Linked DNA regions of Homo sapiens: region 2 is reported to be linked to region 1. Evidence: microRNA targets listed by miRTarBase, many of them from high-throughput screens and not tested one by one. Region 1 holds a microRNA gene; the other region holds the end of a gene's coding sequence.

Region 1 (5,357 bases):
CGGGCGGGCGGACGCGCGGCGGAGGCGCGAGCGGGACGAGGGCTGGCTAGTGCCGGGGCCGCCCGCCCGAGGGGGAGGAGGCTGTGCTGCCCTTGCTGCAGGTTCGCTGTCGAGCGCACAGGAGGCAGGGACATGGGTAGGGTGCGGTCTGCGCGGGGCCCGAGCCCGGATCTCTTCCATTTCCCCTCTCACTCGGCCCCGGGCTGCGCCGCAGACGGCAGCAGCTCCCGCTCCGCCCGAGCCGCCTGACCGCCGGGCCGGGGTGCTAACCGCGGGGCCCTGCAGCCCGCCGGCCCGGCCAGCCCAGCCCAGCCCGGCGGCCCGCAGCCCCGCCGCCCGCCGCCCCCCGCCGCCGCCGCGTTGCCAAAACAAACGGGCCGGCCTATTTATTGGCGGCCGGCGAGCCCGGCAGCTCAGAGTCGAGGCGCCGAGGGGGACAGCGCGCCGCCACCAGCTCGGGCCCTGGGCCCCCGCCCCGCACTTGAGTCCCGCCGGCCCTGGCCGCACCACGCCGCCCATGGCGCCCCCGCCTGGAGCCCCCCGGAGCCACCCGGACGCCTGAGCCCCCGCAGCGCTCCCGTCGACGCGCCTGCCCATCAGCCCACCAGGAGACCTCGCCCGCCGCTCCCCCGGGCTCCCCGGCCATGTCTCCCGCCCGGCTCCGGCCCCGACTGCACTTCTGCCTGGTCCTGTTGCTGCTGCTGGTGGTGCCGGCGGCATGGGGCTGCGGGCCGGGTCGGGTGGTGGGCAGCCGCCGGCGACCGCCACGCAAACTCGTGCCGCTCGCCTACAAGCAGTTCAGCCCCAATGTGCCCGAGAAGACCCTGGGCGCCAGCGGACGCTATGAAGGCAAGATCGCTCGCAGCTCCGAGCGCTTCAAGGAGCTCACCCCCAATTACAATCCAGACATCATCTTCAAGGACGAGGAGAACACAGGCGCCGACCGCCTCATGACCCAGGTGAGCGCGATCCGCCCTACCAGCGCGCCGCCACCGAAGCACGGCCACCTGCCCGGCCCTACCCACCCCCTGGCACATTTTCTCGACTGGCTGGCACGCTCCCTGGCACCTGCCCCTCTCGCCAAGCCCCGCTGCCTCCTGCCCAAGATGGGCTGGCCAGGGGTCCAGGCAGGAGTGTCGGCATCCCCAAGCCCGGAGGAGACTGCTAGAAGAGCTCCCCGCTGCCAAGCCCCACAGCCCAGCAGGTTGGCGGCGGCTCCTCTGCCCCAAAGTACTGGCAGCTCAGCCAGACGCTGCACCCGGAGGTACCTCTACCCGGCTGCCTCCTGCGCCTCCAGGACCCACGCAGTCCCTCCCGGCCTAACCTTCTGCACAGCTGTGCCCCTTTCATTTTGAAACTTTTCGGCACCCCTGAGGCAAAGAATCTCTGGGTGCGTAGGGTCACCACGGCCTTTCCTCCCTGTGCGCTCTTGGTTCTACGGGCTGCCCCTTCCAGGAGCAGCGTCCCGGCTGGGTCTGGGGTTAAGAACAGCGAGGAAGAGTTGAATCGGGAGGCGGAGGTGGGAAAAGGAACCTGCCCAGCGAGCCCACGTGTCTGTCCGGAGAGCTGAGGGGTGCTACTGCGGTGGAAGGGTGGGTTATTGGGGCCTTCGGGCTCTGGGACTGAGCTTAGGGGATTCCTGGGCTTGGTGGTGGGGACGGGAAGGAGTGGAAAAGAGGGGCTGAGATGCCGAGGGAGGCAGGGACCAGGGCTGACGCTAGTCTCTGCATGCTGGAGTAGGACCCGCGCTCCACCCAAGCTTAGAGGCGCAAATTCCTTCCCAGCAGCCAGGTCCGCGAGGGGAGAGACCTTCACCCCCTTCCTTCGGGGTCTCCCGAGGCTTCCCCCTGAAAGCAGGCCCCTGGCTTTCTAGATCCGTTGGGAAGAGCAGCTAGACTCAGGGCCCTCAGCATGCACCCTGGCGCCGGGGCTGGCCGGCCAGTGTCGGGGCCGAAGGTTGGCTGGTGGCCGGGCCGGGCCGGGCGCCGAGGAATGCAGATAAGGATCCGGGCCACGGGCTGGGCAATCATTGACAGCGCACGCCCGGGCTCTGGACCCGAGAGGGGGCGGTGGCAGTGAGGGAGAGAGGCGGGGAACCAGGGCTGCAGGCGGGCATAGGTGCGGGGCTAGAAGCCTGACGGCAGGGTCTACGAAGGAGCAAGCGGAGCTCCCTCCCTGGGCAGTAAGCACCCCCAGCCAGGCTGTGCACCAGCGAGGACCTGCGAGGCCCTGGGTTGTAGCTGCTATTGGCTCCTAGGAAGGCTGAGTCCAAGGGTCTGTGAGGCCCGGGCTCTGCAGGGTGGGGGTAGGTTGAGACTTGGGCTGCCCACACTTGTTGGCGCCTCGAATCTCAGAGTCTCAGAGTCGAGGACTGGTGGAAGGGCCTTTCCCCTCAGACCAAGGCCCTGGCCCCAGCTTCTTCTCAGAGTCAGCTGCACAGTCTCTTGGGCTCTCAGGACCCAGGCACACCAGGAGGCAGCAACCAAGGATGACCGCTTCGGTCCTTCCCCCAGGGCGCGGCTCTACCCCAACTCCACGTGAGGAGGATGGTGGAGCTGGCTCCCTGAGATCAGAAGCTTGGTTTATGGAGTTCCTTCCTACGGTATAGGGGCGGGGCACCGGTGCAGAGGTCCTGGAGGTCTGGGATTGTCAGCCCCTTTTGCGCCTTGCAGAGGAAGACGTTGCATGTGGCCCCCCATTGGGCGGCCCTGGCGCTAATCCGCCGGTTTCTGGTTCCCTGGCCCTGTCATCTCTGGCGGGGTTGTGGGCCGGTTTAAGATTATAAGAGGGTCCCGGCGGGAATCCTCGGTGGTGCTCGAGGGATCCAGGCAGGCCGGCGATTCCCCTCCAACACACCCCCTGAAGCTACCGAGACGCTCTGCACCTGCCGCGCCTCCAGAGCCTGTCGTCCCCAGGCCTCAGCCCTGAGGCTGCGGTGACACCTACTGGGCACCTCGGGCCTTGCACGCCTCGCAGGCCGGCCGCAGGCAGTCGGCTCTGCTGCCACTCCTCCCTCCCGGCCGCTGGCTGGCCCTCCTGCCTTGGAGGCACAGAGGGACCGGGCGCTGAAAGGTGTAGTCCTGTCTGTGGAGGGATGGATACCCGGAGCTGAAGACAGCACAGGAGAGAGGGGACCTCCACCTACCAGTGAAGGCGCCGCCAGGGCGCTTGCCTCCATGCCTCCTCCAGATTTGTGATACCGCCGTGCGGTCCAGATCCCCGGGGGCGGCTGTATGCTAGGGAGGGAGCACTTCAGGGCCCTCTGTTCCTAAGGGAGAGGGACAGCACCCTCCCGGGCTTCCAGCTCCCTTGGGTGTGGCGGGAGAGTTCTGGGCGAGGCTGCGCCTACACCTGCACCTCGGCCGGCTCCTCCGGCTGATTTCGCTCTGGTTGATTTCGCGCACATTCCTCTCCCAGCGCTGCAAGGACCGCCTGAACTCGCTGGCTATCTCGGTGATGAACCAGTGGCCCGGTGTGAAGCTGCGGGTGACCGAGGGCTGGGACGAGGACGGCCACCACTCAGAGGAGTCCCTGCATTATGAGGGCCGCGCGGTGGACATCACCACATCAGACCGCGACCGCAATAAGTATGGACTGCTGGCGCGCTTGGCAGTGGAGGCCGGCTTTGACTGGGTGTATTACGAGTCAAAGGCCCACGTGCATTGCTCCGTCAAGTCCGGTGAGCCGCCGCCGGGGGGCTGGGCCCGGGGCCGGGGCCGCAGGGCATGGGCAGGAGGAGTAGTGCCGAGAAGGTGAAGAGCCCGCCCGGGGATGGAGGCAGGGATCCGGGGGAAGAGGACATCAGCGGCGCTCTCCAAGGCTGCTCCTGACCGTGACTGCCTGCTCATCCCATGCCTGGCAGTGTCATGGTAGGAGCCTAGGGCGATAGGGCCCTGTCCCAGGGCTGCTGGGTGCTGACCTGGTGGCCCACAGTCCAGAGCCTGCCACAGGAGGTGCAAGACAGAGCAAGCTGGACAGATGGAGGAAGCCAGGCTGCCAGACAAGGCCTCCCCACCCCACCTGGCACAGAACAAGGCGGGTGGTGGGGCCAGGAGCCGGGGTATGCCCAGACACCTGCATGCCTGACCAGGAGCCCAGAGGCTCAGAACCCACCACCCAGCTGCAGGTCAGCCCTCCCTGGGGCGCAGGCGTCCCCAACCTCTCCCCCTGTGCCCTGAAGCTGGACATTTTGGGGCAAAGCCAGCCAGGAGAGCCAGACTAAACAAAGTGGACTCAATAAAGTGGATTTTCCCAGATTGGCCGCATTGTTGATCAGAATTGGCAGGCACTGGGGCCTCACCCCTCCCTCAAGTCTTGTCAGCACCCTGTCACCTACACTGAACCCAGCCATGGAGGCTCCAAATGGTTCCTGTGTGGCTCCCAGCCAAGCCCCACCTGGCTGCCGGCTCAGCCTTTCACACTGGCAGCGTGTAATAGTTGCACTCTCATAGACCCGCACACTGAGCCCAGGCCCACATTTTGATATTCCTGACCCTACCCTGACCCACAACCACACCCTGAACCTTCCACTCAATACTTCCCCTGCCAACTGTGTCTACTGCAAGGCCCATCCACCCTTCACTGCAAACATTGACCCACGACAACCACTTCCATTCATTACTCCTGACCCCCAAACACTGTTCTCCAGCTCACCTGCTGATGCCGCAGTGTTCTGTCCCTGCACAGGGACTCAGCATGTGAACTGAAGATGGTGACTGTGTCCTCGCCCCTGGCCTGCCCCTGACCCAAACATTCACTCCGAGGCTGCCCAGGAGTCTGCCTTTGCCCCACTGGGTGGGCTCCTCTCACATCCCTACATTCAAAGGTCCAGCTCTGTTACAGAACCTGGGGAGTCAGCCTGAGAGGGCAATTTTTGGGAAGTGTCTGAGCAAGGGGTGAGAAATAACAGAACATCTAGGCCTCGGAGGAGCTAAGCAACCTCCCCCTTCCATGAGGTAGCCCTTTCCTTCTCATCCACTGGGTCTTGGAGCCCCACTATGCTCCTTGGCAAGGTATTAGGCTGGGGAGGGGGGTCACAGAAGATCACATTGGAGTAAGGGGATGGGGGCAGTGAAGTATGGGTTCAAGCCTGCATAGGAAGTGGGGGGCAGGAGCTGGGATATGGTGACGGGGGCTCTCTGGGAGCAAGAGGAGCTCTGGCTGGCTGGGGTGGCCAAGGGAGGGTCGTTGTGACCAGGAGGCTGAGCTGCACAGCAGTAACACCTTCATGTCCCTTTCTCCCACAGAGCACTCGGCCGCAGCCAAGACGGGCGGCTGCTTCCCTGCCGGAGCCCAGGTACGCCTGGAGAGTGGGGCGCGTGTGGCCTTGTCAGCCGTGAGGCCGGGAGACCGTGTGC
Region 2 (5,357 bases), not on the chromosome of region 1:
CCCGTGACACAACTTGCTCCCAATCTTCAAACGTTTTGAAAAGCTCTTTCCTGCTGGGCTTCTGGCATGTACTTTCTCGTCGCCCCTCCTGCCTCTCTGGCGAATGCAACTCCCCTCATCCTTAGGGCCTAACTCAACCCTCCCCTCCTTCCTTGACCCCTGGGTTAGCCCGGTGGGCCCCAAGCAGAGCAGTAACCCTGAGTAGTGTCTTCAGTGCATGGTGACCCGTGACTTCCACCAGGAGAGGGACAGCACCCTATGTGCCCTGGCCAGGCACAGCACAGGTGTGTGGCACACGTGGAGGCCAGGCTGGCTTTACCCTCACTCCCCAGCCATCCTGAGCTTTCCCTGACAGCCCCTTGTTCTCACAGCTGAGACCTGCAGTGTCTGACTAGTAGCCTCGGAATTTCTGTGGCTGTATACATTTACGCTGAAACAAATCAAACAGAATTCACCATTTAGTGCCCCAGTCATACGAGGCACCTGGGGCAAGTGGCTACCATATTGGGTGGCACAGACTCTAACATTTCCATCATCACAGAAAATGTGCCCAGCCAGCCTGGTCTAGACCAGCCTCTTCCCTCCCCGGTCTACTGTGCGCGGTGCCTCAAGAGGGCAGCTTTTGGAGCCATCTTGACAGGGCATCAGCTTTGCTGACAGCCTCTCACATTGGGGACCCCTCCCCAGGGGCTGCGGGCGGGGCTCCGACTCAAGCCAGCCCTCACCTTCCCTTTCCATCTCCTCCTCATACATGGCCGCCTCCTCTTCCTCCTCGCCTCCCTCTTCTTCCTCCTCCAGGGTGAAGGACAGGCTGGAGATCTTCCGCTTGGCTTCCTTCTTACGCTCCTTCTCTCGAAGCTTCTCCAGCTTCCTAGTGAGGTGCAGGTGGCCCCATCACACATCATGTCCTTCCCGACCCTGACCCAGCCCCTTCCTTGACCCAGAGCCACCTGTGTGCCCTATGTGGGGCCTGCCCAGCCCAGGCTGGGTCCCCATTGCCCCAGACGGGTCCTGCTGTCCTGGATCACTTTGAGCTCATGGGCGAGGGCTCTGTTACAAACAGCAAGCACAGAGGGCCACAGGGGAGAGCCAAGCACAGGCTGGCAATGGGGAGAACGCAGGCTGCTCAGGCACCGGATGCTGGGAAAGGGCCCACTGCATTTAGAGGGTCAGAAAGAAGACAAGCCGCCATGGTGAAAAGACGTGAGCGTGGACCCGAGGAGGCGGGAGAGAGAAATGCAAATCGCAAGCTAGATGCTACCCCTGTCCCAAAGCTGGAGACAGGGTCCCCCCCAGGGTGCAAAAAGAGCCCGACCAGCCACGGGACCCCGTAAGCACTAGCTCCATGTTGAGGGCTGCGGCGAGAGGACCCACATCTGCAGCTCCTTGGACTGCTCCTTCTTGGCCAGCTGCTTCTCCCGCTCCTTCACCAGAGCCTCCTGCTTGGCCTTCATGTCATTCAGGGTCACGAGACCTTTGAAGCAAGGAGGCACAAGGGGCAAGGTAGTCGCAGGGCCAGCGGAAGAGTGGCCCGGGGCCCGGGTGAGGGGCACCCGCACCCTGCTCACCCACGGTGCTGGACTTGAGCTCTGCCTCCACCGCGTCGTAGTGCGCAGAGAACTTCTTGTCAATGTTGGATTTCATGATGTTCTCCTGCGGGGAGTGACAGCCACCATGAGAACCACCCCTCACTGTGGAAATGGCAGGCTGGCCATCAAGGACCTGCGTTATAGTCCAAATCTGCCCCTGTGCCCTTGTCGATGGAAGGTTCCATGAGGCTGGGCAGGGCTCTTCAAATGCTAAGAGTGCCAAATGGGGCTGTTTCCATCCCTGAGCTGCTCTGGCTCTTCAGGTCTCCTGCTGGGGATCACAGGTCCCTCAGTAGCCTGAAGCCACCGACCCTACTGACCTTTGGCCTTTTTCATCTCCAGCCTTTAAGCTGAAGCTTCCGAGACCCAAGCCAAGGGTTATGAGGAGAGGGCAAACAAGAACAGAGTGGTTGAGGGGCCTGGCCCCTCCCTGAGTGATTTTCCTCCCTCCAGGCCCCAGAATGTCATCAACAGCTTCCCAGGAGGCCTCTCTTTGGCCCCAGCCCCAACCCACTTGGTACCATGTCAAGCCCTCGCTGACCAGTGGTCTCCCAAGAAGGTGGCTGGCAGAGAAATACACCTTCTGCTTGCTGGGCACCCCGGCTCAGACAGTGCGGCCAGGGCATGAGGACTTGGTGTTTCAAGGCTCCTCTGGCCAGGCTTCCCCAGTTCCCCAGGCAGGAGCCTGCTCTCCCCTGGAGCCCCGAGTCCTGATGAGTGAGTCTCCCCAAAAGGATCAAGCTCCTCCACGCTCCTTCCCTGACCACCACCATCACAGGCCACTCACGGAAGCAGTGGGTGAACCGCTGGCACCCGGGAGGGTCGTGCCTGCCTCACAGGTGCAAGGGGTTCTGGAAGGAGCCTCCTGGCCAGTGGACTTGCCAGGTCTGGCTCAGGCCTCCCCGCCTCTCCAGGGGGAGACGAACCGCCCTGCCCGGTGTCCATAGGACCAGGGCAGAGGCCTGGCTCTGAGGGCCGAGGGGGCAGAGGCCTGGCTCTGAGGGCCGAGGGGCCAGAGCCAGGACGCTGGGTGCCCAGGCGAGGCGACGAGAGGCCCGTCCCCGCCGTGCCTCCCAACAGAAACACTGGCTCGGCTCCCTCCTGCCGGAGGCCGGTCATCAGCTAGTGGCCTCAGCCTCGGAGAACGCCCGGCTCCAGGCCCATTTCACAGATGAGACTGTCGCTGGCTTGCTTCTGTGTGCCCTGCTGGAAGTCAGCGAGCCAGGGGCCTGCCCCGGCGCGCCGCCCGCGCTCCGTGGCCACCGCCCCAGGGCTTCCAGGGCCGGAGCGTGGCGCGGGGCCGCCGGGGACCTGGGCAGCGCGCATGCTCCGAGGCTCCCCGGCTCGCACCTCCGCGATGCGCTGCTTCATCTGCTCCATCTGCTCGCGCTGCTTCTCCCGCTTCTTCATCAGGTGCATGGCGCGGCCGGCCTCGCTCGCGGCGCCCTTGTATTGAGCCATGGCAGCGGCGGCGGCGGCGGCGGCGGCGGCGGGCGGCGGCGGCGGCGACAGCGACAGCGGCAGCGGCAGCGGCGGTGGCGGCCGAACAGTCAGCTGACGCCCGCGCCGTGACGTCAGCCACCAGGAGACGCACGGATGCCCCGCCCCGCCGCGCGCCAGCTGGCCCGGAGCGTGACCACCGCCCGCCCCGCCCCGCCGGAGACCGCCCCTGGTCCTGCGTGGACTCCCGCCCCAGCCCCCGCCGCCGGCTCCTGTGGACCCCGGAGGCTGAATTCCCCAGCCCCTCGCGCTGCCTCGACGTTAACCCGAGCCAAGGCTGGGCCCCGGTCCCTCTAATTCCTCCTGGTGACCCCAACGCTGGTCCCCTGGCTGCCCTAGTTCCCCCGCATTAAGCCGAAAACTGGCACCCGTCTCCCTGCTTCACTTAGAATCCCATCCGAGGCTGGCCCCTGGTCCCCTCTGCCCTCTCCTTTCAAGCCAGAGGCCAGGACCCCCGCTCCCTCTGCTTCCTCCACGTTGACACCCGCCCTCCACCACACTCCCCCTGCATTGAGCACTGAGGGCTGCAGTCCTGGTGCCAGCATCGACTCACTGGGTAGCCTTAAGCTTTAAGTCAATTTGGCCCCAGCGTGCTCTGGGTGAGGAATTCCCTGGTGAAGAATGCCACCTTTTACAGTCCAGAGTGAAGCTAAGCCAGAGCCCCAACCCAGGCAGCCAAAGCCCTGCCAGGTACCCAGCTTTTGGGAGATAACCATCAAGATCCAGAGATTCAGGTTTCAACCGTTTTATTGGGAGGTTTTGTTTTCTGTGAAATACACTAGAGGGTGGGGAAGGGGACACATTCACTTTGCAAGATAAGGGTTTCCCACCACTAAAGGAAAGGCATGGGGCAGGGCACACTGGGGTTTGGGTCCGTTTTCCCACCTCCTTCTGCTTGGCTCACTTTTCTTTTCTCTCAGCAAGTACCACAGAACACAAAGACAAGAAACAAAACAGCAAATCAACCTCCAACGGGGCCATGCCCAAGCCTTCCCCACTCCCCCAGGCTGGGCAAGGGCTGGGAGGGGCTGGGGCAGCTCACTCGACAGCCCTCAGGCCACACGGGAAGGCTGCAGGCTCAGAAAGGGTGGGTCAAAGTTAATAAATTAGAATAAATTAGGGGGGAGGAATGCAACTTTGTGCTGGGAGGGCCCCTTCTCTCCAACACGCGAGAGTTGGTGGGGGGGAGGTGGGGGCATCTCCAAAGGCCACTACAGTGGGGGTAAGAGCGGTGGGGGCAGAAGTCACCTTTTCCTCCACGTCTTCCCAAACAGAGCAGAAGAATTAGGGGTGGGGGGAAGAGACACACACAAGGAGAGGAACCCTCTTTTCCTAGGATAAGGAAGGGCCAAGAAAGAGGATGCTATCCAACCCCCCATCTCCCAAGCCATCGCTAGGGTTAAGGATTTGGTCAGTGGATCAATGAGGTGGGTGATGGGAACGTGGTGGGGGAAGCAGAGGATGCTGGAGCCCTCGAGGAGAACAGACACAGGCTGGGGCAGCAGGGGCTGGGGGCGGCCACAATCACTGCTCAGCTTCTCCAAAGACGTCGTTCTGTTTGCGCTTCATGTTCTCAAAGTCAAAGGCCGTGCCAGCCATGCGTTTGTAGATGTCTTTGATGTCGTTGCAGGTTGTCTCAAAGTGTGTGGTGGCATCGTAGGAGCAGGAACAGAACACCTGGAAACAGCCAGAGCCCAGCGCCCAGGGTGAGTCAGACAGGTATCCTGGGCGGGCAGCCAGGAGCCCAGGGCTGGGACGAGCTGCTTACCTGGCTCTCACAACCATCATCAATGGGCTCATACAAGTCACTGATAGCCACAAACCTGAGGGGCAGACAGAGGGGAGGGGACAGGCCTCACAATGGGCCATGCCCTTCCTGGTCCCTAAGCCCAGCTGCTGGGCTCCCTCCCTCTCCCCCTTGGGCTCAGCCCAGTCCCTCACTTCTGGTCAATGGGCTCCAACAGCTCCAGAGCCGGCTCCACCTCCTTTTCAGGGTCCGTGGTCTCCACAGTAGTGCTGGCAATAGCTATGTACTTGCCCTGGGCCGCCACGTTGTGTGCATAGGAGATCATGCACACGTAGATGTCTGGCCACAGGAAGAGCTCCGTCAACTCAGGCCAGAGGCGCTGGCCATACGCAGAGAGGGGTTCCAGTGGCTGGACACAAGTCTGGCCCGACTGCCCCTCCCCAGCCCCGCAGAGCAGGTAGCATCCAAGCCGCCACCCTCCCAGAGGGAAAGAGTCCAGGCCACCCAAACCCTAGGGCTCC

The links. Region 1 holds the annotated microRNA hsa-miR-3131 (UCGAGGACUGGUGGAAGGGCCUU, at 2,365-2,387, shown strand). A microRNA usually pairs through its seed, bases 2 to 8, with sites in the 3' UTR of a target mRNA and lowers its output. Matches are read on the target gene's strand: a 7mer-m8 pairs with bases 2 to 8, a 7mer-A1 pairs with bases 2 to 7 and ends in A, and an 8mer does both.
Region 2: miRTarBase lists GDI1 as a target of hsa-miR-3131. Seed matches in the 3' UTR shown: 7mer-A1 at 4,563-4,569.

Annotation. Positions count from the first base shown.
Region 1 is chr2:219,055,755-219,061,111 of GRCh38, reverse strand. MIR3131 (microRNA 3131) reads left to right here and starts at 2,362; the gene lies at 2,362-2,424. It overlaps IHH (Indian hedgehog signaling molecule), which reads left to right and starts at 191. Exons shown (of 3, transcript NM_002181.4): 1 at 191-959; 2 at 3,418-3,679; 3 at 5,247-5,357. The coding sequence starts at 645.
Region 2 is chrX:154,441,929-154,447,285 of GRCh38, reverse strand. It overlaps GDI1 (GDP dissociation inhibitor 1), which reads right to left. Exons shown (of 11, transcript NM_001493.3): 9 at 5,031-5,175; 10 at 4,858-4,912; 11 at 3,819-4,766. The coding sequence ends at 4,614. FAM50A (family with sequence similarity 50 member A) reads right to left here and starts at 3,145. Exons shown (of 13, transcript NM_004699.4): 1 at 2,940-3,145; 2 at 1,569-1,653; 3 at 1,375-1,474; 4 at 726-871. The coding sequence starts at 3,050. RefSeq lists enhancers at 1,816-2,383, 2,951-3,518 and silencers at 2,648-2,737, 2,748-2,957, 2,968-3,317.